7 linked regions of the Homo sapiens genome follow. The protein of the gene in region 1 purifies or fractionates together with the protein of each later gene. This does not show direct contact. Each region holds a gene or a part of one and is shown in the gene's direction. Other genes may lie near its edges. The genes, in order: TSPAN8, SLC30A7, TMEM161B, TMEM68, CPT1A, USP34 and TMEM87A.

Region 1 (3,500 bases):
TAGGCTTTTAGTGGTTACTGAGGCCCTATTTGTGTAAGGAAAACAATGTGGTTGATTTATTTTCCCTAAATTTAGAGTTATTTAAAAATTAGAATTTGCAGCAGTTATATTGAGTGCTTGTTAGAAGATGCACATGAGACCAGGCGCGGTGGCTCATGCCTGTAATCCCAGCACTTTGGGAGGCCAAGGTGGGTGGATCACAAGGTCAGGAGATCGAGACCATCCCGGCTAACACGGTGAAACCCCATCTCTACTAAAAATACAAAAAATTAGCTGGGCGTGGTGGCTGACACCTGTAGTCCTAGCTACTCAGGAGGCTGAGGCAGGAGAATGGCATGAACCCGGGAGGCGGAGCTTGTAGTGAGCCAAGATCGCGCCACTGCACTCCAGCCTGGGTGATAGAGTGAGACTCCATCTCAAAAAAAAAAAAAAATAAGATGCACGTGAATGCAATCATGGAGACACATTGAGTGTACACTTAACACTTGTATCAGTCTGTTTTCACACTGCTGATAAAGACATACCTGAGACTGGTAATTTATAAATAAAAAGAGGTTTAATAGACTCACAGTTCTATGTGGCTGGGGAGGCCTCACAATCATGGTGGAAGATGAAAGTCCCATCTTACATGGTGGCAGGCAAGAGAGAGTGGGAGCCAAGTGAAAGGGGTTTCTCCTTATAAAACCATCAGATCTCATGAGAATTATTCACTACCACAAGAACAGTATGGGGGAACCACCCGCATGATTCAGTTATCTCCCACTGGGTCCCATGGGAGATACAATTCAAGATGAAATTTGGGTGAGGACACAGCTAAACCATGTCAACACTCAATACAATAAACACCATTAATATAGTATTGGGGGAACGTGCCCCCAGTATTTCAACGTAGGTTCTATTTTCCATAAGTGTCAGCTGGCTGAGAAATAAAGAGAAACAGTACAAAGAGAAGAATTTTACAGCTGGGCTGCCGGGGGTGACATTACATATCAGTAGGACCGTGATGCCCACCTGAGCCATAAAGCCAGCAAGTTTTATTAAGGATTTCAAAAGGGGAAGGGGTACAAGAACAGGGAGTAGGTCACAAGATCACATACTTCAAAGGGCAAAAAGGAGAACAAAGATCACATGCTTCTGAGGAAACAGGACAAGGACGAAATCAGAAACTCCTGATAAGGGTCCAAAAAAGATCACAAGGCAAAGGGCAAAAGCAAAGATCATAAGGCAAAGGGCAAAAGCAGAATTACTGATAAGGGTCTGTGTTCAGCGGTGCATGTGTTGTCTTGATAAACATCTTAAACAACAGAAAACAGGGTTTGAAAGCAGAGAACCGGTCTGACCCCAAATTTACCAGGGTGGAGTTTCCCAATCCTAGTAAGCCTGAGGGTACTGCAGGAGACCAGGGCGTATTTCAGTCCTTATCTCAACCACATAAGACAGACACTCCCGGAGAAGCTGTTTATAGACCTCCCTGCAGGAATGCAATTCTTTCCCCATAGTATTAATATCAATATTCCTTTCTAGGAAAAGAATTTAGCAATATCTTCCCTACTTGCATGTCCGTTTATAGGCTCTCTGCAAGAAGAAAAATATGGCTCTTTTTGCTCGACCCCACAGGCAGTCAGACCTTATGGTTGTCTTCCCTTGTTCCCTAAAATCACTGTTATTTTGTTCTTTTGCAAGGTGCACTGATTTCATATTGTTCAAACGCACATGTTTTACAATCAATTTATACAGTTAACACAATTATCACAGGGTCCTGAGGTGACGTACATCCTCAGCTTACGAAGATAACAGGATTAAGAGATTAAAGTAAGACAGGTGTAAGAAATTATAAGAGTATTATTTAGGAAGTGATAAATGTCCATGAAATCTTCACAATTTATGTTCCGCTGCCGCGGCTCCAGCCAGTCCCTCTGTTTGGGGTCCCTGACTTCCTGCAACAATATGGGGCTGAAGATTTTTTAAAAACCATGATTGCAGAGTCTGCTAAAAGTTGAAGATTTTAATTTACTCTGCTGGTTTACAGCATCAGAAAATCCAATATCGCATGAGGCTTAGTAGATCAGAACTACATCAGGCCATGCTTGTAAAGGGAATGCACATTCTACTCTTTTTTTTTTTTTTTTTGAGACAAGAGTTTTGCTCTTGTTGCCCAGGCTGGAGTGCAATGGCGTGATCTTAGCTCACTGCAACCTCCACCTGCCGGGTTCAAGCAATTCTCCTGCCTCAGCCTCCTGAGTAGCTGGGATTACAGGCACGTGCCACCACACTCGGCTAATTTTTTTGGTATTTTTAGTAGAGACAAGGTTTCACCATGTTGGCCAAACTGGTCTTGAACTCCTGACCTTAGGTGATCCACCTGCCTCAGCACATTCTACTCTGAATGAACTCTAAATCAGAATTGGTCTCATCTTTTTCAAGGAAATTTAGCATAAGACCTAATAAAAAATACTGTTGAACAAGTGAAAGATATTGCCACCCTGAAGACTTAGAGGACAAGCACACATCCCTGAAATAAATATTCTAGAATCCTGAAAAAATGTATGTAGAAATTGGTATCCACAATGTGATGCTAGAAAGTAACCTCTCATGAAACAGTGAATGGAGGCCATAAGAGAAAATAAAATTTATTGGAAAACAACGGGATGAGATAAAAAGGGAAATGGATAAAATATGTAAGGACTGCAAGTAAACTACAAACATAATAGCAGAATTAAACTTCACTGTAGAGATCACATTAAATAAAGACAGTGACATAGAATCCCAAACTGATAAGCTTTCCCACAGGAAAATCAAATAAGAAATCAGAATATTGTGAAAGAAGATAATAGATACAGACAACAGAGAATGGAAACCCAAAATAAGCTGTACTCCTGAAAAAGAGGACAAAATAAATGGAACACAAATAATAATCAAATTAATATATGGAAATTTTGTGGAGCTGAAAACATACCTGTATGCAGATGGCAAGTGCCTGATCTACCCCAGTGAAAGAAGACATCTATGCCTAAATAAATGTTAAGAAAACTACTAACTTAGTTAAAAGATAAATAAACATCTTACAAATGTCTAGATACAACTGACAAAAAAGAAAACAAGCAAATAATGCATGAACGAAAATAAGGCTGGTGATATTCTTCTCCTATTGTAACCCTGAAAGTCAGAAGACAATGAAACAATGTCTGCTGAGTATTCAGAGCCTTTCACAAATGAATAAGAGAGAAAGAGATCTTCAGGTATTCACACTGTAAAATTTACTGAAACATATCCAAAATGATTAAGGTATAAGTAAAAATGGATAATTGAAGCATGGGAAAATCATGGTTAAATGGCTAACCATTTTAGGTCTGGAAATAAAGAAGTCACATGTCTAAATAGTTATATTTTTTATTATCTCAAATGTAGATTGGAAGGATATTTGGAAAGAGATGTAATAGAAAATAGCAATTTAGTAACATTTACTCTGCGCTAAAGCCCAAGACTGATTACACTAAATA
Region 2 (3,084 bases), on another chromosome or scaffold:
TACACAGAAAATTTTGACTTAAAACATCTGCTGAATTCCAAATTTCTGTAATAGCTACTGTATCTGTGATAAACTTTCCTATATCTTTCCTTGCCATTTCTATGGATTTTATAATGAAAGAAAAAGGCATTGGAGACTGAAGGCAGAAATGGTTGTGACAGTGCTGTTTGGCTTTTTCATTCTTCAAATGCCAAGTCATCCACTTTGTTTTCCTGTTTAGGCTTTGCACAAATACAATTGCTTTCAGGAATCCTAAAGCAGCATTTTATTGAGTTTGAATTATTAAAGGTACAGAGGAAATGTGGTGATGTAGAACTTTTCCTAACACAGGTATCTAGGAAGTAAGTGCTGAGTTGATTTTCTAGGTTCTTACGTATTTGAAAAATAAAATTGCAATTCGAGATAAGTGCTTGAGCACTCTACTTAAGTATTCTCTGTGTTTTATGAAGAGAAAATGATCTGATTTTCCCTTATACTTCATTTTACAATACATATTCCCTTTTAACTTAAAAAAATTGTAAATGTGGGAGAAAAAACCCTGCAGGATGGAAACAATTATTAAGAATGTAGATCAATAAGTACTTTTTAGTGATGTGGCAGAAATCCCTGTTGATTCTAAGTTTTAGAGTGTCTTTTCCCCTATTTCTGACCTACAACTATAAACTACTCTCTATTAGGAGAACTAGACCACTTTCTTCATTCTTTTCTAAACTGCTGCAGATTGCCGTGAACTCTATCAATAGTCTCTTTTCCGCAGGCAAAGTGGCATTTTCTAAACATGTTTGCTTACTGCCAGGTGGTTTGAAATCTATGATTTACTGCAGTAGTATGTGCTTAAAACAACTGTTGAGGTCTTTTAAGCAGGAAAGTTCAAAAGGAAGTGTCCTGATAATGGTACTGGTTTTTCTACAAATATAAGTAGTCATTAGAAGTTTGCAACCACCACCAAGTCTGAGAGAACTCTGGGATATTCTGTGGGTTTTGGCATATTAGATAGAGAAAATGACAGATCTAGATGAAGGGAGCTTTTGGATGTGTGCCTTTAAAAACTGATTATGTATAAATACTGATATTTCACATACGGAGATATTTGAAGACCCAAGTCTGCCTTTCACAGAGCCCTCCATTCCAAGTTTAGTTTTTGTCAAAATATGAATCATTTTATTTGACTGTACTATCAGTACACAAATGCATGAGTATGTTTATACAGTGTTAGACTGATGTGAATTTGCATTTGTTACATTACATTGCCAGCGCATATCATTTAGCAAGTTGGCATTAACATTTATGCTTTAATTAAATGCCAGTATACCTATGTGTGCAGCAGTAAAAAATTAGTGAGAAAAAGCAACTTTTTGTCACTCTTAGGAAATATTTTGTCTTATTAGTGTTCTTGGCACATGTATATTACTAAAGTAGATAATTCCAATGAGAAATACTACCAGATTATTGTTATAAAATTAATTTACAATGTCCCTGATATTGAGCTAACTCTTAAAAAAACCAAACAAAACTCGTATCTGAGTGTAACTTTGCCAATATTTTAAAAGCCAAAATATTCTCTGGACAACAAATTTGTATTGCTCAGGGACAGTTTACCTTGCCTGGTAAACCTTCCCAAACAGAAATATAGCTATACTATCTTTGGTTTTGTTTTTTTGTTTTTTTTGTTTGTTTGTATTAGATGGAATTTCACTCTTGTCGCCCAGGCTGGAGTGTAGTGGCGCAGTCTCAGCTCACTGCAACCTCCACCTCCCGGGTTCAAGTGATTCTCCTGTCTCAGCTCCCTGAGTAACTGGAATTACAGGTGCACGCCACCACGCCCGGCTAATTTTTGTGTTTTTAGCAGAGACAGGGTTTCACCACGTTGGCCAGGGTGGTCTTGGACTCCTGACCTCAGGTCATCCTCCTGCCTCGGCCTCCCAAAGTGCTGAGACTACAGGTGTGAGCCACCGTGCTCAGCCACTAGCTTTGGTTTTTTAAACATAGATTATATTCCTCAAGATGAAGGGCTTAACATATCCACAGCTTCCTCAGTTTGCTAACTCCCCATGCATCTTTGTGAAGGACAGTATCTAGTTTATCTGTAGGTCAGTGTTCCTTGTGCTGTCATTTCCCTTATATCTGGAATTTGTCAGCATTCCTGAAAACCTACACGTGTATATCAGTAACCAAAATGCTATGCCTTTTTTGCACCTTTGTACAGCAGCCAAATCATGAACTCAAAATGTATTTGATCACAGTTCTATAATGTTTTTACCTACCTATTATGGAATAATCAGTTTTTACAGAGATTATTAATATGGTAGAACCCTGTTATGTAATTCCAAAACTTAAGAACCATATTTACATTGCTTAACACAGAATTTTACATCTAAGCAAGGACTGGCTTTAGAAGCAGTGTAGTTCTACCTCTCATTTTACAGATGAGAAAACCGAAGCCCAGAAAAACTCTCATTTGCTCAAAGTCACAGAGAAAATTAGTGGCAAAGCCAAAAAGATTCAGATCTTCTGACTCGAAGTTGAGAGTTCTTTATACTCTATTATGCTGCCTCTCCAGTGTAATATTTGCCTTTCTGTAAATGGGATTAAATATGATTTGTAAATAAAGGACATCTGACCTCCTTTTTTGGTACATTAAGGCACTTTATAAATGGACTTTTATTGTCTCATTTTTCGTATATAATTATTTCCATCATATTCTTTATGGAAGATGCAATTAATTTTAACTTTTTTACTCTTATAAAACCAGTTCCTGACATTTTAAAAAACAATATCTGTAAAATGGATCCTTTTATGAGTGAATTTTTCTGCTAATTGCCCAAGGCTAAATCCAATTTAAGGATTGCTTAGTTTCTTTATTTTGTTTATGGTCTCTGAACTGGTATTTTTTTATAAACCAGGCTAATTCACAGGTCATACCATTTCATTCTTGTCGTGTTGGCTTCCAGTCACTGGAAAAGCTTTTGCATTTTAAAGATTTTTAGAGCCATGCAAAACTGGGCATTAAATGTTGCATAAAGCAAATCTTTTAAGTAAGGTAAAATGTTGAAGTCTTAACCAGAATTCCTACAACTAATTACT
Region 3 (4,023 bases), on another chromosome or scaffold:
TTGGAAAAAACACAAAATTAAAAGTTGTATGAGAGTTTCACTTATTTGCATCTGATATAAATATCTATACATCTATAGAAAAAAAAAACCCTCATACACTCAGTCTGTGTCCCTTTTCCTGACATAAAGCAACTGGCCCTGTGCAAGCTTCTTTGGGATGGCTGAGAACCCCGATATATCGATATATTTATAGATAGACGTCTACATATCTATCCAAATATCTATATCTATCCATATATCTACCTATCTATCTATCTATATATATATCTATATCTATCGATCGATATCTATCTATATCTATCTATCTAGACTTCCCTGGTGAGGGAGTGAACCGCTGCCTGACGGGGGCCAAGACTGGCAGAGCAGAGACGCGGTTTGTACATGAGGGGAGGTGGTGGCCAGAGCAAAAGTGAACCGCAGGCTAGGCAAAGACCACAGCACACAGCCATACAGGTGTCCAGGACCGTCAGATCCCAGAGCATCTATCTATATAGATAGGTATCTATATGGAAAACGTCCATATTGGAACGTATTAAAGAGGCAGAATTTTCTTCCTGGGTTCTCTGCTCTTGGTAGATGTTCTTCCGGCTTCAATTGCCACCTGTGAATAGTGAAGAAACTTCTCACTATGAGATTCCATTGCCCGGAAGGAGGGTAGAGCTACGGTACCCACTAAGGCAGGGAACAGAAGCAACAGACGGACAGGTCTGTGGAAATGAGGATATGCTAATAAGGGACCGAGTCAGGAAAACTAGAGGGTAACAAGAGGGCGTCAGTTAAGCTGAGACAAAATGACGGCCAAAGGTGGTCTTTACTCTCTCTAAATCACCTGGGTCTGGAGTCGACTCCCATCGCGCACCCTCACTCCCACCCCTGGCCCCCTCCCGCCCCCCACCCGCCCCCCTCCCTCTCCCCTCCCGCTCCCCACACCAACGTGTGCCTCCGTCACCTCTCAGACAGTGGATGCGTTCCTGTTGAAACCACCCAATCTACCTCAGGGTCCTCGCAAGCGCAGCCACCACGATCCGCCCGCCCACGTACCTGTGCTGCGCCTGCGCCTCCTCCGCTCTCTCAAGGTCAGCACCGCCCCCAGCCCACAACCTGGCACCCACGGAAGTTGCTTTAGAGGACGTCCTGCGTATCTTCACCTCTGCGTGGCGTGGGGTCGACGGCGCTCTGGAGAAGGGAGGAACTTCCTGTCCCGCGCGCGCACAACTTCCGGCAGAGCCGGAAGACCCTCTCTTTCGCTGTTTGAGAGTCTCTCGGCTCAAGGACCGGGAGGTAAGAGGTTTGGGACTGCCCCGGCAACTCCAGGGTGTCTGGTCCACGACCTATCCTAGGCGCCATGGTGAGTTCTTCTGTGAGGGCAGGAGTGACAACGGTGGGGCGAAAAGGGCGGGGAGGTCAGTACTGTGAAAAGAGCCATCAGGTGCTCTGCTCAGAATGGAGTTGAGACGTTGGGATGAGCTGCTGGGTAGGACCCACCACCTATCTCAGGGTGTCTGAGCCCCTGAGGAAGCAGCATTACGCCTACCTGTCTGGGAGACTAGCGGGCCGGAGGCAGGGGCGTATCTGTCAGGGAGTATGGACTGGGTAGCCTGCCTGTTCATGGCCCATTTACTGTGTATGGCCTGTGGCGCCAGGTGATCCCAGAGTTGACCTTGCCGGGTCAGTCACCTCTTCTGCGCCCCCTTCTCCATCCGCGGAACAGTGGCCAAGAACTTCAGATCTTAGAAATGCTTTTAGCCTCTCCAGGTGGACACAACGGGTCTCCTTGTATAAGATCAACACCTGTCATTTAAAGAAACGGTAGTCCCCTTATTCTTTACACTTAGCCATTTCATAATTGAAAAGGGTGTCAAATAAAAAACCCGAGTTTAGTAAGGACAGACTTTATTCGAAAGGAATATTGCAGGGGTGTGGAGGAAGGTTGAAGGAACTGTTGCAGTAGGGAGAATGACCGTAAGATTTGCATGCACCTTAAAGGTTAGGCAGAAAGGGTTTGTCTTTTGTTGGTAGGGGTAAATAAGATGTCAGGAATTGGGATGAAAATATGGGTATGATCCGGCAGTAACCAGATAATGTTTTACCCTGAGCCCATGTATTCTGAGGAGGAGCTGTTAGGAGAGGTTTGTATATGTTGTTTCAGACTGAGGGAAGGACAAAATTCAGGTACCCGAGAGAAGAGAATCTTAAAGTTTGGTTAATAAGTATTTTGTTCCGATTGATCTGTGGGACAGGTACTTCAGCAAGTCATTTACGAAGCAAAGGATGGGAATTAGAAGGGTCTAGTTATGGCCTTGTTATAGGTAAACAAGGGGTAGGGGGGTATGGATCAACCCTTAGTCTTATCTAAGTTCTACAGGAAAGATGATTCTTTGCAGTAAGCCAATTTCTCAGAACACAAACGGGGGCAAGGGGTTTCTTAACCTTTGCTGTTTTTCAAGATCACGGGGCTCTGGTGAAGTTCATTATTGTCAGTTTCTTCACCGTATACAAGATTTCAAACCCTCACTTGCAGAGGCTTCTGTCCTGGAATTTAGCTTCAGTTTGTCTTATATTTTCAGGGCCAAATATTGCCAACATTCAGTTAATGTGTGTGGTGATTGGCTTTTGAATGACTTTTAGAAACTTAGCTGAATGTAGAACAAAGACCTTCAAAATAATGTAGTTCCTGGTGCACTTTACCAGATAACCTATCTCTTTAAAGTTTTTTTTTTTAAGCCTCAGTGAATAATATGGTTTGTATTAAGAAAGTTGTTTTTCTTTTGTATCAGTGAAATTAGACAAGGATAGGGAAAACAGAACTGGGAGAAACCAAAGCCTAGTAATCACTCTTCCATCCCCATTTTTACAGAAGAAAGAATCTGGGGTCTAGAAATTGACAGTGATTTTTCTAAAGTAACAGTAGTTTGGCAGTCTGGACTAAAACTCATATTTTCATTTTTTAAATTTAAGATTAATTTTTGACTTTTTGGTCTGAAAAGTTGAAGGTAAAGTATAATTAAAATACTTAAGTTCATCATAGTCACAGAAAAGCTGAACATGAACTTGTTCTCAGTGTTTTGGAATACTAGAAGTAGAATCCTGCTTATCCTGTCGGTTCAAAAGAGATGGTTAATGTTTGGAACTAATGTAATCTTATGCTGTTTTTCTGAATGTCATTTTGGAACTAACTAGTTGGCTCTTTTCCTTCTGGAAGTGCTTATATTTCTGAGCTAATTATCTTGGCTGAGTTTTATCTTTCCCAGCTATGAAATTGATAATGTCTGTATATGCAAGTGTGGTTAATGCTTGGAATTTTTCAAAGGGAAGAGTTTAACCATTAAATGAAGTGAACATGGGCTGAATTTATTGAGGATTCAGCTTGTTGAAATCAGAACTTGTTTTGCATTGCTGGGGCCTAATGATATTATGAAAAGAACATTAGTATTGACCCCAGAGGACCCAGATTCTGCCCATTGTTAGTTATATGGATTTGGAAAAGTCACTCAATTTTGATAAGAGTTCCAAATTCCTCCTGGGTAAGAGAAGTGGGACTTGATGGGTATTAAAGCACCTTCTTAAATTTATGATTCCATGACTACTCAACATTTTTGAGGATAGTTACATGTTTCAGATTAAATAAAAGTTAGTCTGATTTCCACTGTTTTGTTTCCATGCCATTTTGGCTTAAGTTTGATTTCTTTTATCATTCTCTTTTTCATTTTTTTCATAAGTCACATAGATAGTACTTGGAATCTTTGTATATTTGGCCAAGTCTTTCACTACTGTCTTAAATACTGCTCCAGAATGGAACACAACTCTTGGAATGTTTTGATTTAATTCTTGTTTTAATCAATGATAAACTAATTCTGTGCTCTCATTCTCTCATACATTATGTATACCGATACTCAATAGATACCTGTGCCTATAACAAGGTTTTTGTATTATGAATGAAGGAGAATAGGATTATGATCCAGACTGAAAATACTGAACTCACGCTTAATTTTTATGCTTTCAAGTTGTTGTGAAGACAAGTCT
Region 4 (3,500 bases), on another chromosome or scaffold:
GTGGCACAGTGCCTGGAGTCTCAGCTACTTGGGAGGCTGAGTGAGAGGATCGCTTGAGCCCAGTAGAGCAAGGCCGTAGTGAGCTACTATTGTGCCCCTGCATTCCAGCCTGGGTGACAGAGCAAGGCCCTGTTTCCAAAAAAAAAAAAAAAAAAAAGGGATCCTATATTTTATCCTATTATGTATGAATCCTTCCCTGTTCATTCATTCATTATGAGAATGCATCTAGTTGAATCAGTGAACATTTAATATAATGTGGGGTGACAATTATTTTCTTTTCTTTTACTTTTTTTGAGACAGTCTTGCTCTGTTGCCCAGGTTGGAGTGCAGTGGCTTGATCTTTGCTCACTGCAACCTCCGCCTCACGGGTTAAAGCAATTCTCCCTGCCTCAGCCTCCTGAGTAGCTGGGATTACAAGCGTGCGCCACCATGCCCGGCTAATTTTTGTATTTTTAGTAGAGATGGGGTTTTGCCATGTTGGCCAGGCTGGTCTCAAACTCCTGACCTCAGGTGGTCTGCCCGCTCATCTTCCCAAAGTGCTGGGATTACAGGTGTGAACCACCACACCCGGTCTGACAATTATTTTAATCTTAATGCTATTTATAAACTTGCCTCAGATCTTTAATGAGAAGTTTGGTTGGTCTGCATAGTGTTTTTTGTTTTTTTTCTTTGAGACAGAGTCTTGCTCTGTTGCCCAGGCTGCAGTGCAGTGACACAATTTTGGCTCACTGCAACCTCCCCCTCCTGAGTTGAAGCCATTCTCCTGCCCCAGCCTCCTGAGTAGCTGGATTACAGGCACGTGCCACCATGCCAGGCTGATTTTTGTATTTTTAGTAGAGGCAGGGTTTCACCACATTGGCCAGGCTGGTCTTGAACTCCTGACCGCAAGTGATCCACCTGCCTCTTTCTCCCAAAGTGCTGGTATTACAGGCGTGAGCCACCGTGCCTGACCAGTCTGCGTAGTTTTTAACATCAAATGCATCGCTATATTTCCCATTCTCAGGGAATAATGTATACTAACATCAGTCCTCAGAAGTTCCAGTATGGGATTTGATTAAAATATTTAATTACTAACAGGATTATTTCTTTCATCCATAAACAGTTGTAATTTGAAAAGCTGTATAATATTAAGACTTGGAATTAGCTGCTCTTGAGTCAAGCACTCTCACTTTATTAAAATCTCTTAATGATGTTTGCTATTTTAAAAATTTAATTATAGAATTAGCATTATCTAACTTTTAATTTAAATAGATTTGATCATGGTCTTGCCAGTTTTGGAAGAGCTAAGCGTAGTTTGATTCACATTCTCCTGAGTGATTCTCTTTTTTATAGGGTTAATGGAAGATTAGATTTCTGATTGCTGATGGGATATCATTTCTGAATCCCATTAGAATCCTATCTCTGGAATCTCTGCCCTGCCACTTCTTAGATGTGTGACTTTGAGCAAGCTATTATTCTGTAAGCCCAAGTTTTCTCATTTGTAAAGTGGGGAGAAGAATACCTGTTTGTCAAGATTGTTGTGAGTTTTACTTAAGAATTTGAGCCAGAGAAGCTTAATATCAAGCTTAAGTTAACCTTTAGAGTTTTTGTTGATTTTAACAAGTAAAAAAGTTTACTGATTTAAGTATAAATAGTACACTATGTAGTTTGTGAAGATTTTTCTTTTGAAGAATTAAACAAGAAATACTTATGTTGTAACTTCATACTCATGTTTCTTACAGGGTTTAGTTTATTACTGGATGTGTTTTGTGCTCTACATGGACCAAGAGAAAAATGTGTTGAAATTCTGAGGAGTGGCCACTTGTTAGCTATCTCACCAGGTGGAGTTCGAGAAGCCCTAATTAGTGATGAAACTTATAACATCGTATGGGGTCATCGCAGAGGCTTTGCTCAGGTTGCAATTGATGCAAAAGTGGTGAGTTATATAAAATTAATTATTGAAGTAAAGCTTAGTCAAATTTAAAATAAATGGTTAAGTAATGAGCCAAATTGTATAAGAACTTAGACACTTTCGCTGCAATACCTTAAAAATTAGTATGTAGGCCGAGTGTGGTAGCTCACGCCTGTAATCTCAGCACTTTGGGAGGCCGAGGTGGATGTATCATGAGGTCAGGAGTTTGAGACCAGCCTGGCCAACATGATGAAACCCCATCTGTACTAAAAATACAAAAATTAGCCAGGCATGGTGGTGCATGCCTGTAATCCCAGCTACTCGGGAGGCTGAGGGAGGAGAATTGCTTGAACCCAGGAGGTAGTGGTTGCAGTGAGCTGAGATCGCACCACTGCACTCCAGCCTGGGTGACAGAGTGAGACTGTCTCAGAAAAAAAAAAAAAAAAGACTGGAGAATTTGAATGTCATTTTGTTCTTTTACTTTGCCTTCGGAAAGTATTTCTCAGCCTTTTGGTCTCCATATTGTACTTTAGCCTATGAAACACTTATCTATTACCTATGGAAAGTTTCTGCTTCGTTTTCTGTTTATTTTAATTCTGATTGTCAGAAAAAGAAATTACGTTTGATAGAGTATTGTTCTTTTTCCAGGCCAGTTAGAGAATATTGTCAGTAACTTAGTTTTTTAGTTGTATAGAAAATGAATTATGGCACATTTTACTTATTTCCCAGTCTTAAGCACTGACATAGAAAACAAAAACCTAGACTATATGAATAATATAGAATACAAAAGGATATATGCAGTTATACAAAAATTAAGAATAATCAATATAATGTATATGAAAACAATGATAAAAACTAAAATCCTAATCAAAGATGGTTCAACTTTCAAGTTTATATTTTGAAAGAATTGTTTTTTCAAAAGTTTAAGATAAAGATGACAAAAATAGATTTAAAATCACATAAATATGCCATGGGATTCCAATTCCTCATCCTTAAGTTTACATTTTCGGCAACATATTGCTTGGAAGAAGGACTGAAAGAGATAAATGATGCAGAGAAAATAACTCTTTCTAATCCTCGAGTTTCCAGATAATTAATTTAAATAAACTAGATAATTTAATTGAGATTTTTATATAAAACTTTAGAAAGTTTAAGAAATACCTTTTTATAAGTTTAAAAACAAACAGAAATCTTATAAGTTTGATAAATATTGTGCCACCCCAACATCTCATAGCACTTTTAAACACTTTATCTTATACTCCTATTCAGTAAGGAGGTGATGCATATAATTATTCCAATGTTGCAGATGAGGAGACTCAGGCACAGAGAGATGGAGGGATGGAAGGGATCTGGTCATTCAGCAAGGCAGCAGTAGAGCAGAGCACACAGTTCAGAACTCGAGGCAACCGGTACTGTTGCCATTCCTGACTACATTGCACAGTGAGTCTGCTGACGTCTAAGACTGAAGGGGCTTCCCAGATACGTGAGGGAAGTCTTTCAGTAATATATATGTGTATATATGTATAGTTGTAAGTGGCACAAGTATCCCCTCTGGAAAATCCCTTAATAGGCCTCACAAAATTATAAGCTGTGAACAAAATTTAAGGCT
Region 5 (4,019 bases), on another chromosome or scaffold:
GTGGTGGGGGGCGGGATCAAAGGAGAACTTTCATTTTCTCTTCTAAATTCTTCTGCGGTAACAACTAAATGATACAGAAAGAAGGATGGTTGCAAACATGGATTTTTTCATAACTAGAAGAAGTGGTCGAACTTAAAAAGAGCAGGGTTCATAAAAGAGGTTTAAAAGAGTCTTTGTTCATAACATCGGTGCATTTATGGAGCACCTGCTGTATGCAGAGCCGCCAGCTCGCGCCTGGAAGCATTGCGGGCAAAGATAGGGGAGGGGTGGCTCCCGGTCAGGAAGACCCCCTTGGCCCTCCTGTTACGCTTGGGGCCCCTCTCCCTCCCCCTCAACCCCCTGGGTCCCCTGCAGCTGCGCTCGCCCTAGACTCCTGGGACCGGTGGATGTTCAGTTCCCGCTCCCGGCCCCTCTCCCGAGCTCCAGCACAAGGGTCTCTCGGTCGCTCTGCCCTGGCCTCCAGCTACTCCTCTCCCAGCACCTATTATGTTCTTGACGCTGGAAGAATTATTTTAGTAAATCTCACCAAAGCCCCCCAAGTGAGGCATTTTTATCCTAGCTAGATGAGGAGGAGCCACGCTGCCTCTGGATCGCGATGACTGCCACTCGTGGTATAAGGTCTGATTTGGGGCATGGGCTGTGGAATCAGATCTGGACCCAATGTCCGATCTATCACTTCCCCGCGCTTTTTTTTTTAGAGACGGGGTCTCGCTACGTTGCCCAGGCTGGCCTCGAACTCCTGGCTTCAAGCGACTTCCCGCCTCCCGAGTAGCTGGGATTACAGGCGCGCCCCACCACTCCCTGTGGATCGGTTGCTTCTCAGCTCGGTGATGTGGGGTAACTTATTTCCTGGCCCGCGACCCTTGTCTGCATGAAAGAGTCAGGGGTGAATACCATCAGGGGGTGCCTGGAGCATTACACGGGGCAATGCCGATAGATAAGTCGCGAGGATCAGCCAGGCACGGAGCTAAGCGATTTTATGCGCACGGCCTCCACGAGATGGCTCGTTTTACGGATGAGGAAACTGAGGCTCGGAGGGTGAGGAATCTCGTCCTAGACCCCATTCCGGCAGAGGTCGAGGACGCGAGCACCCGCTCGAGCCTCAGTTTCCCTCCCCTCCTAGCCCCGCGGACGCCCCGCCCCGCCGAGGCCCCGGGCCCGCCCTCCGCGCGCCGGGAGTCACCCGCCTGCAGGCGCCGCAGCCGGACCCGCCTCAGCCAATCCGCTGCTGCCGGCGTCGGGTGCGCTCGGCCTCGCCCGCGGCCCTCCTTCCCCGGCTCCCGCTCGCCGCTCGTTCACTCCACCGCCGCCGCCGCCGCCGCCGCTGCCGCTGCCGCTGCCGCACCTCCGTAGCTGACTCGGTGAGGCCCGGTCGCCCGCGGTGGGGAGGGTGGCGGGGCGGCCCTGCGGGCTGCGGGGGCCGGGGACGGGCGGGGCGCGGGGCTGCCGGGAACCGGACCGGGTGGGGGACGCCGCCGGAACCGGGGCGCCGAGAGGAACCCCGGTATTCCCCCCGGACGGCGGGGTTGTGGAGATCCTGAACCCAGAAAGAGGCCGGGGCTCCCCATGTTCCCCAGGGGATTGGGTCTGAGGGTCCACCGGGGGTCGGTCCATCCGCAGGCGGGTCCCGTGCGGCCGCGGGAGGGATGCTCGGCCCTCCGGACTTGGCTGGACGCCTCCGGCCCGGGGCCAGCGGGGCCACCGGCTCCCTTGTCTCCCACTCCTTAATCCGCCCTGGACTGGATTGAGTCTGAGGGTCTGCCCAGGGGTCGGTCAGCCTGCGGGTGGCCGCGGGAGGGATGCTGGACGCTCTGGATGCTTTCCAGGATGCCTTCGCCCGGGGCCAGTAGGGCCTCCGGCTCCTGTCCCTGCCCATCCCACCCTGGCTCTGGAGAGGATTGGGTCTGGGGGTCCGCCCGTGGGTTGGTCACCTACGGGCAGGTGCAGTGCGGCTGAGGGAGGGGTGCTCGGCCCTCGGGATTCGGCAGGGCGCCGCTGACCCCATCCCAGCGTCCGTCTCCCCGGTCCCCCTCCCCATGCCCGCCCTCGCGGTGCAGCCGTCGGGACACGCCCTTGGCGCAGGGACTCCAGGCGCGGTCCGAGCGCTGCCGTGAGCAGGATGAGGGTGCCGGGCCCAGTGCCTGCTTGGGAGCGCCCCGCAGCCTCTCCCGTGCAGCGCTGGGTCAAGGGCGGGTGGGCGCGGAGCATGTGCCCAAGGTCGTGCCGGGCTGGGAGCGGCGGGGCCGCGGGAGGGTGGGGGTGTCACGTGGCCGTGCCCTGGCGAACTTGGCCTGCGAGCCCGACGGTGCGGTCAGGGCCACGCGGGGCAGCCCCTTCTCGGAGCCACCGCCGCGGCCAGCCAACAGCCGGCTTCTTTCGGTTTGTCAGGAGAGGCCATGGGTCAGCGTCTTTATAATGTAAATCCGCCCTTGGCTTTCGTTAAAGCCGCAGAACTCAAAGATGAGGGCCGATCTTACTTTAAAAAAAGAAAACAACTCAGAGAGTTAAAAATCCCAACTACCTACCAGGTTAAATACATAACAAAGTTAATATTCCCAACTCGGCACAGGCTTTCGGTTCCTCTCGGCTCCGTGTGTTATAAAATATTTAAGGGCAGATTTTAGTAGGAAGCTGGTAACTTTGTAAGTTACCGAATAAAATGAAAATCGGTTTTACCTTTTGCAACGTTGTATTTTGTTACACCATTTTCTTCCACAGGTGTCCGGTTTCTGGTCATTCCAGATATGCAAGCATGTTTATTTCATTCTAAGCCACAAACCAAGTGAATAAAAAATGGCTGAGCACTGGTCTTCTATTTATGCCAGGAAGCACCCCCACCCCCGGGCCTTTCCAAATTCTTTAAGGCGACTCTGACCGAGTGAACGTAGCAATAAATTGAGGACATAAGTGTCGCTGAGAATGCACACCGCTGAGGCCAGCGAACATCCAGCTGTCAGTTGGTCTGGGGACTATCAGCATTCGCAGCTGGTTCTTTGGATTGGTTTTGCCTCAATACCAAGAGCCTGTGGACTGCTTTTCGCATGTAAATTACTGGTTTCCTTCCTGTGAAGCATTGCTAGCCTAGACCTTGCACTTGAACCCTATCTTAACAGTTGGAATCAAACAATAAAAAGGGCCAGGTTTGGGAGTGCACACACTTTGTTTCAAAGTGGCAGAAGTTGGCATCATGCACAGGCCAAAATAACGTTTCGAGTTGGTACTAAAAACAAGCCGCCTACCCTGGAGGGGAAGAGAATTAAACTGGGTCCCTTCCGATACTGCTGCGGCTGCTGCGTTTGGCCCCGGCCCCGGACCAGTGGTCACCGAGCGGTCAAGTTGGGCCTCCGGGGAGCCCTGGAACGAGGGCCTGCCCTTACCCAACCCTGGCCCCGAGTGCTCATTCATAAAAACACCGTCAGTTTTCACTGAGGCTTCACAGTGAGCCCCTTTTAGACGCGCCCTGGGCTCTTGAGCGCGGTGCCTGCGTTTCTGGCTCGTTGGATGCAGCATCTGTCATCAGAAGCACTGAGCACCGAGCTGTCCCCACAGCTGGGCACCGCAGGGCTCGACCTTCCCACGGAGAGGTGCGTTGCATTTCTCCCGCTGTCGCTGGGGTGGCCACAGGGACGCGCGCCAACTCGCTCCGGAAGGTCTCTGTGGGCACGGCGGGTGGAACAGGATCCGAGCGCCTGGGACGCGCCAGCCTGGGGGCGGGGCTGCTGCTGACCTTTCCCCTACTTTTCTCAGCCGTCACGTGACGCCGCCCGGGGCTTGGGGGAAGGGGCGGGGCGCGAAGCCGCAGTTGCTGGCGGTGCCCTTCCGAGGACGCTTTCCAAGCGAGCAATTAAACTTGCTGCCCGAAATCTAAAGGCGCAGGGGCGGTGGCAGCGGCGGCGGGAGGCGGAAACCGGAGCCTGCGCGGGCCAAGGGCTGCTTCTGCACTTTGATCGTTTGCATTTTTTCCTTTGTTGGAAAAAATGTTTAGTCACTCTGCATGGTTATTATTGGCAGGCCAGAAT
Region 6 (3,500 bases), on another chromosome or scaffold:
ATCCTGAGCAAGAAACAGAGGCAGAGGCACAGGCTGTGACTGGTAGACCAAGGCAGGTTTTTCCTAGTGTTAAGGATCTCAAGACCTGGGTCTTGGTCCTACTTGAATCCTAATTTCTTGACTGACCTTGAGTAATTTACTTATGACAGCTGCATACTTTAATAAGATATACACATATGCATATATATATATATATAATCTAAATTTTGTCCTATTTAAAAAATATATTGCTTTTTTCCATATAAATTATTAAAATGCACATTTAAATCTATGGAGTGTATCTGCTTAAAGACATACTACTTGTGTTTAAGAGCCATGACTATTTGAAAACAGGAAAACCAAATTTTAGTAAAATTTCCATATATTGAGACCACTGATTCTGTGTGAGATAATTAGGAAAGAAGATTTATTGTTTACCCTTGCAGTGTTTATGGGGGGAAAAGGTATTTACAGAATTACTGTTGCTAGCGAGAATATACAGTAAAGTTTAAAACATTTTGGAGAATTGATTTTGATTCTTAAAATGTGTCTTTTTGCAACATATGCTCTGGTTACCTATAAATACATTAATTTGGCCCTTGAAAACATTCACATCCTATTCTTTGTTAGCCTTATTTTTCCAGTCCTTGTTAACTCTCTCAGTGCTGGATAATAAACCTGCATTTCTTTTAAAACATTTGTTCAGTTTCGGCATCAGTGTCTTCCCCCAGCACTCCCTTAATCTAAATTAGTAACATTTTACTGTATGAAAAATAGTTGCTGTTAACTAAAAATTCAATAGGTGAGTTAGACATGGCTTTTCAAGTAGGATTTTCAGTGGCTTCAGATTCCATCATACACAAGTGTATGTTTTTTCTGTGTAAGTTTTTTCCGTGTAAGTTTTTTCCGTGCTCAACCGTAAGTGCTCAACCATCTTCTCCCCACTTTAGTCTGCTATGTCAAAAAACTGCATCAAGCTTTTGTGTGAAGATCCTGTTTTCGCAGAATATATTAAATGTATCCTAATGGATGAAAGAACTTTTTTAAACAACAACATTGTCTACACGTTCATGACACATTTCCTTCTAAAGGTACGTAGTACTTTGGAAACTCAGTGTGTCATTTCTAATTAGTTAATGCTTGTGGTTTCATTATGCTGGTCTTTTGGAGATTTTTTTAAATCTTCTTTTTCAGGTTCAAAGTCAAGTGTTTTCTGAAGCAAACTGTGCCAATTTGATCAGCACTCTTATTACAAACTTGATAAGCCAGTATCAGAACCTACAGTCTGATTTCTCCAACCGAGTTGAAATTTCCAAAGCAAGTGCTTCTTTAAATGGGGTAAGAACTATGCAGAGGCGGCGGCACACACTTTTAAACTGTCCTTCAGTTAACTGTGTGGCCTTCATATGATTTTACTCTCGTAACTTTAACTTACTGATTCAAACTCTTAAGCCATGTGCGACAAAAAAACAAGTTTTAAATACACGTTTACTATGCCTTGTATGTACACAGCACACTCTATCACCTTGGAAGCTACAAGCTGGTATCATTAAATGCTGAAAGGTAATAAAGGGAACATCTTAGTGGTCTTATCTCTAGTTGGGTATATTTTTGGAAACAATACTTGTGATGTTTCTATTACTGCCTATGGCTCCTATGTAACTGAAACAATTAATGATCTACTGATTTAAAAAAGGCAGTTAAATCTAGAGCATTAGTTGCCTTGTGCAGACTCCCATGACAGCCATGTCCTAGAATAATGGAACACTCTGGAAATGGGCTAGAATGTTGAGCAGCAGCCTCCCAAATCACAGTATGCATAAAAGCCAAAACAGATGACAGAGCTCAGTAAGGAAGACCTTACTATTTGTGACATCCATCAGAATTTTAACTTGAGAAACTGATTTCAAGGTTTGTTTTTAAAATTCTTATATTTCCTTTTCCATTTTTCAGAAAACACTATTTCAGGCTTTGGTCTGACTTACTGGTTCGTGGGCATAAAATAATGCTATTAGTGACTTTAAGAACTAATGAGGCTGGGCACGGTGGCTCATGCCTGCAATCCAAGCATTTTGGGAGGTCGAGGCCGGTGGATAACGAGGTCAGGAGATTGAGACCATCTCAATGGCCAACATGGTGAAACCCTGTCTCTACTAAAATAGAAAAAATTAAGCCAGGCGTGGTGGCGGGCGCCTGTAGTCCCAGCTACTTGGGAGGCTGAGGGAGGGGAATCGCTTGAACCCGGGTGGTGGAGGTTGCAGCGAGCCGAGATTACACCACTGCACTCCAGCCTTGCCAAAGAACAAGACTCCATCTCAAAAAAAACAAAAACAAAACAAAAAAAAAAAACAACTAATGAAATGCTGTAGTATCTTAACACTGGCTTTCTGGTTTTATCATTCTAAGAATCCCAGAGAAACCAGGGTATTCTTAGGAAAGAATGGATTCCTGGGAAAATAAACATCTGCAATTAACTGTAAACAACTGCATCAAAGTGTTGGCTTTAGAATTTGAAATGTTCCTATCTGGGTTTTTGTAGGACCTGAGGGCACTCGCTTTGCTCCTGTCAGTACACACTCCCAAACAGTTAAACCCAGCTCTAATTCCAACTCTGCAAGAGCTTTTAAGCAAATGCAGGACTTGTCTGCAACAGAGAAACTCACTCCAAGAGCAAGAAGCCAAAGAAAGAAAAACTAAAGGTTAGCTTTATGGACTACTATCATTACCTTTAGGGTGGGAGGAGGGAGTAATACACTTGGTGTAACTGGTTTAAGAGTTGTGTGTTCAGCTGAACCTCCTAAATATAAATGCTAGAAACAAAATTAACTTCCCACATCCCCCCCTAACGTGATCTTAATGACTTTCAGAGAAGTTTCCCTTTTGGCATGTGTTTTCACAGATGATGAAGGAGCAACTCCCATTAAAAGGCGGCGTGTTAGCAGTGATGAGGAGCACACTGTAGACAGCTGCATCAGTGACATGAAAACAGAAACCAGGGAGGTCCTGACCCCAACGAGCACTTCTGACAATGAGACCAGAGACTCCTCAATTATTGATCCAGGAACTGAGCAAGATCTTCCTTCCCCTGAAAATAGTTCTGTTAAAGAATACCGAATGGAAGTTCCATCTTCGTTTTCAGAAGACATGTCAAATATCAGGTCACAGCATGCAGAAGAACAGTCCAACAATGGTAGATATGACGATTGTAAAGAATTTAAAGACCTCCACTGTTCCAAGGATTCTACCCTAGCTGAGGAAGAATCTGAGTTCCCTTCTACTTCTATCTCTGCAGTTCTGTCTGACTTAGCTGACTTGAGAAGCTGTGATGGCCAAGCTTTGCCCTCCCAGGACCCTGAGGTTGCTTTATCTCTCAGTTGTGGCCATTCCAGAGGACTCTTTAGTCATATGCAGCAACATGACATTTTAGATACCCTGTGTAGGACCATTGAATCTACAATCCATGTCGTCACAAGGATATCTGGCAAAGGAAACCAAGCTGCTTCTTGACATTAGGTGTAGCA
Region 7 (3,500 bases), on another chromosome or scaffold:
GTAATGGTAGTTTTTCAGTCATTCTTTCAAGTAAATATGGTGTTTCGTGGAAAAAATGATTAGTTTAACTCACAAGTCAAAGCAATTGCAGAGTGCTTTATCTCAAGACAATAATTTATTGTATTTTGCATGCTTTCCATTTTGTCACCTAGATTATTTAAAAAGTCAGGTACTCAAAAGGTCCAGATTTAATAACATTAATAATTTTTACTGCTTTATCTAGGATATTCTTACATAAAAGTGGCATTTTTAAAAACTGCCAGTTTGTGACTATGAAGAATATGACTGCTAGTAGAATTAAATGCCACTGCCTTAGTTCCTGATAAGGGGCAACAGTTTTACCCACTATTGCTTTTGTAATATCGTTACAAGTCAAATAGCATACTATTATTATTATGAAAATAGTTTTTTTTTTTTTGAGATGGAGTCTCACTCTGTCACCCAGGCTGGAGTGCAGTGGCGCGATCTCAGCTCACCACAACCTCTGCCTCCTGGGTTCAAGTGATTGTCCAGCCTCAGCCTCCCAAGTAGCTGGGATTACAGGTGTCTGCCACCACACCCGGCTAATTTTTGTATTTTTAGTAAAGATGGGGTTTTGCCATGTTGGCCAGGCTGGTCTCAAACTCCTGACCTCAGGTGATCCACCTGCCTCAGTCTCCCAAAGTGCTGGGATTACAGGCGTGAGCCATTGTGCCCAGCCATGAAAATAGTTTTGTCTATGGTTCAACGGCCACACTTTTGAGAATTGCCATAATCTAGAATACTTGAGCGTTGAAAATATATTGCTCAAAGAATAAAGCTGGAAGCATCACATTACCTGACTTCAAACTGTACTACAGGGCTACAGTAACCAAAACAGACACAAAGACCAATGAAACAGAGAAGACAGCCCAGAAATAAGGCCGCACACCTACAACCATCTGATATTTAACAAAGCTGACAAAAAACAAGCAATGGGGAAAGGACTCCCTATTTAGTAGATAGTGTTGCGGTAGCGTGCTGGCCATATGCAGATTGAAACTGGACCCCTTCCTCACACCATATTCAAAAATCAACTCAAGATAGATTAAAGACTTAAATGTAAAACCCAAAACTATAAAAACCCTGGAAGACAACCTAGGCAATACCATTCTGGACATGGGAAGTGGCAAAGATTTCATGATGAAGATGCCAAAAGCAATTGCGCCAAAAGCAATTGCAACAAAAGCAAAAATTGACAAATGGGATCTAATTAAGTTTAAGAGCTTCTGCACAGCAAAAGAAACTATCAATAGAGTAGACAGCCTACAGAATGGGAGAAAATATTTGCAAACTATGCATCCAACAAAGGTCTAATATCCAGCCTCTATAAGGAACTTAAACAAATTTATATGCAAAAAACAACCCCATAGAAAAGTGGGTAAAGGACATGAACAGACACTTTTCAAAAGAAGATATACAGCCAACAAGCATATGAAAAAAAAAAAGCTCAGTATCGTTGATTATTAGAGAAATGCAAATCAAAACCACAATGAGATACCATCTCACATCAGAATGGCTATTATGAGAAAGTCAAAGGATAATAGATGCTGGCAAGGTTGTGGAGAAAAGGGAATGCTTATACATTGTTAGTGGGAGTGTAAATTAGTTCAACCACTGTGGAAAGCACTGTGGCAATTCCTCAAAGAGCTAAAAACAGAATTACCATTTGACCCAGCAATCCCATTACTGGGTATATATCCAAAGTAATATAAATCATTCTACCGTAAAGACATATGCACATATATGTTCACTGCAGCACTGTTTACAATAGCAAAGACATGGAATCAACCTAAATGCCCATCAATGGTAAACTGGATAAATGTGGTACATATGCGGCCATAAAAAAGAATGTGATACATATGCAACCATAAAAAAGAATGAGATCATTTCCTTTGCAAGAACACAGAAGGAGCTGGAGGCCATTAACCTTAGCAAACTAACACAGGAACAGAAAGCGAAATACCACGTTTTCACTTATAAGTGGGAGCTGAATGATGAGAACACATGATCACAAAGAGGGGAACGGCAGACACTGGGCCTACTTGAGGGTGGAGGGTGGGAGGAGGGAGAGGATCAGAAAAAATAACTCTTGAGTACTAGGCAGTACCTGGGTGATGAAATAATCTGTAAAACAGTTCCCTGTGAGTTCAGTTTACCTATATAACAAAGTTGCGTATGTATACCGGAACCTAAAATAAAAGTTAAAAAAAAAATATATATATATATATACACACACATATATATAGTTCTGAGTTGAATTTTTCAGACCTTTTCCATTCTGTTTCTATCTCTCAATTTGCATTTTTAAGAAGATTATCCTAGTTCTGTGCTTGCAACAATTTTCTGCTCTATCTTAGCTTATGAGCATGAATATTTTTTTGTTGATGTTGTTAATTTGGTCAAGTAAATCTTTTAAGTATATTTTAATGTGACAAAACCCTCTACACTCTGGCAGTTTCCCAGTCTACTCAGAATTGTTAGTAGAACTATGCCTTGTGAGCCAAAGACTAGAGTCTAATAGTCCTTGAGTCTGATAGTGTTTGATTCTTAGATATTTTTATATAGAGCCTTTATCTGATGCTGTTCATTTTTAAAATAGCAAACTCAAAATTGTATCTGTACTGCAGGTGAACTGTTTGTTGTGCTGTGCTCTTAGTATCTTATTTTTTGGAAGGTGAGTTAACTACTCTGTATTATCTCTTTTTCCAGGCAGAAGAAGTAGAGTTGTATTTGGAAAAACTTAAGGAAAAAAGAGGCTTGTCTGGGAAATATCAAACATCATCAAAATTGTTCCAGAACTGCAGTGAACTCTTTAAAACACAGGTAATCTTTGAAAGTGATTGGAGATAAATAGAATAGGCAAAAATTGGAATGTATATATTTTTGGCTGTATCCACTTCCGACTTCTCAAGTATTTCTTTTGGCAGAAGTAAGTGGAAGCATGTTCTGATAGGTACATAGTCAGCCACTTATACATACTCATCAAAGAGAGGTTGTACTTTGCTTTGTGTGTAAAAAGCAAACCCCCATTTTTTTATTGTGGTAAAATATACACTACATAAAATTTACCATTTTAACCATTTCTAAGTGTATAATACAGTGGCATTAAATATATTCACATTGCTGTGCAGCCATCGACCCATCTCCAGTACTTTTTTTTTCCCCAAGGCAGATTCTTGCTCTGTCCGCCAGGCTGGAGTGCAGTGGCACAATCTCGGCTCACTGCAGTCTCCATCACCCGGATCTAAGCAATTCTTTCACCTCAGCCTCCCAAGTGGCTAGGGCTACAGATTCACACCATTACGCCTGGCTAATTTTTTTTGTATTTTCTGTAGAGACAGGATTTCACCATGTTAGCCAGGCTGGTCTTGAACTCTTGACCTGAAGTGATCCACCCACCTTGGCCTCCCAAAATGCTGGGATTACAGGTGTGAGCCACCGGGCTGAGCCCCATCTCTAGTACTTTTATCATCCCAAAC

The links.
Region 2: the proteins of TSPAN8 (region 1) and SLC30A7 purify together in Homo sapiens (affinity purification with mass spectrometry; one large-scale study listed by BioGRID and IntAct). This does not show direct contact.
Region 3: the proteins of TSPAN8 (region 1) and TMEM161B purify together in Homo sapiens (affinity purification with mass spectrometry; one large-scale study listed by BioGRID and IntAct). This does not show direct contact.
Region 4: the proteins of TSPAN8 (region 1) and TMEM68 purify together in Homo sapiens (affinity purification with mass spectrometry; one large-scale study listed by BioGRID and IntAct). This does not show direct contact.
Region 5: the proteins of TSPAN8 (region 1) and CPT1A purify together in Homo sapiens (affinity purification with mass spectrometry; one large-scale study listed by BioGRID and IntAct). This does not show direct contact.
Region 6: the proteins of TSPAN8 (region 1) and USP34 purify together in Homo sapiens (affinity purification with mass spectrometry; one large-scale study listed by BioGRID and IntAct). This does not show direct contact.
Region 7: the proteins of TSPAN8 (region 1) and TMEM87A purify together in Homo sapiens (affinity purification with mass spectrometry; one large-scale study listed by BioGRID and IntAct). This does not show direct contact.

The regions. Positions count from the first base shown.
Region 1 is NC_000012.12:71,148,000-71,151,499, reverse strand, and holds part of TSPAN8 (tetraspanin-8), read left to right. Parts: intron 1-3,500. UniProt on the Homo sapiens protein: Structural component of specialized membrane microdomains known as tetraspanin-enriched microdomains (TERMs), which act as platforms for receptor clustering and signaling.
Region 2 is NC_000001.11:100,976,090-100,979,173, forward strand, and holds part of SLC30A7 (zinc transporter 7), read left to right. Parts: 3' UTR 1-3,084. UniProt on the Homo sapiens protein: Zinc ion transporter mediating zinc entry from the cytosol into the lumen of organelles along the secretory pathway.
Region 3 is NC_000005.10:88,266,046-88,270,068, reverse strand, and holds the start of TMEM161B (transmembrane protein 161B), read left to right. Parts: upstream 1-1,223; 5' UTR 1,224-1,345; coding exon 1,346-1,348; intron 1,349-4,023. UniProt on the Homo sapiens protein: Essential for maintaining normal cardiac rhythm in the developing heart and for neonatal survival.
Region 4 is NC_000008.11:55,749,379-55,752,878, reverse strand, and holds part of TMEM68 (DGAT1/2-independent enzyme synthesizing storage lipids), read left to right. Parts: intron 1-1,721; coding exon 1,722-1,915; intron 1,916-3,500. UniProt on the Homo sapiens protein: Catalytic subunit of the alternative triglyceride biosynthesis pathway, which mediates formation of triacylglycerol from diacylglycerol and membrane phospholipids.
Region 5 is NC_000011.10:68,839,117-68,843,135, reverse strand, and holds the start of CPT1A (carnitine O-palmitoyltransferase 1, liver isoform), read left to right. Parts: upstream 1-1,219; 5' UTR 1,220-1,361; intron 1,362-2,718; exon of another isoform or gene 2,719-3,584; intron 3,585-4,019. UniProt on the Homo sapiens protein: Catalyzes the transfer of the acyl group of long-chain fatty acid-CoA conjugates onto carnitine, an essential step for the mitochondrial uptake of long-chain fatty acids and their subsequent beta-oxidation in the mitochondrion.
Region 6 is NC_000002.12:61,188,088-61,191,587, reverse strand, and holds part of USP34 (ubiquitin carboxyl-terminal hydrolase 34), read left to right. Parts: intron 1-929; coding exon 930-1,070; intron 1,071-1,173; coding exon 1,174-1,317; intron 1,318-2,518; coding exon 2,519-2,678; exon of another isoform or gene 2,679-2,878; coding exon 2,879-3,486; 3' UTR 3,487-3,500. UniProt on the Homo sapiens protein: Ubiquitin hydrolase that can remove conjugated ubiquitin from AXIN1 and AXIN2, thereby acting as a regulator of Wnt signaling pathway.
Region 7 is NC_000015.10:42,263,434-42,266,933, reverse strand, and holds part of TMEM87A (transmembrane protein 87A isoform 1 precursor), read left to right. Parts: intron 1-2,730; coding exon 2,731-2,844; intron 2,845-3,500. UniProt on the Homo sapiens protein: Potential monoatomic ion channel gated by mechanical force, implicated in normal touch sensitivity through the generation of mechanically activated currents.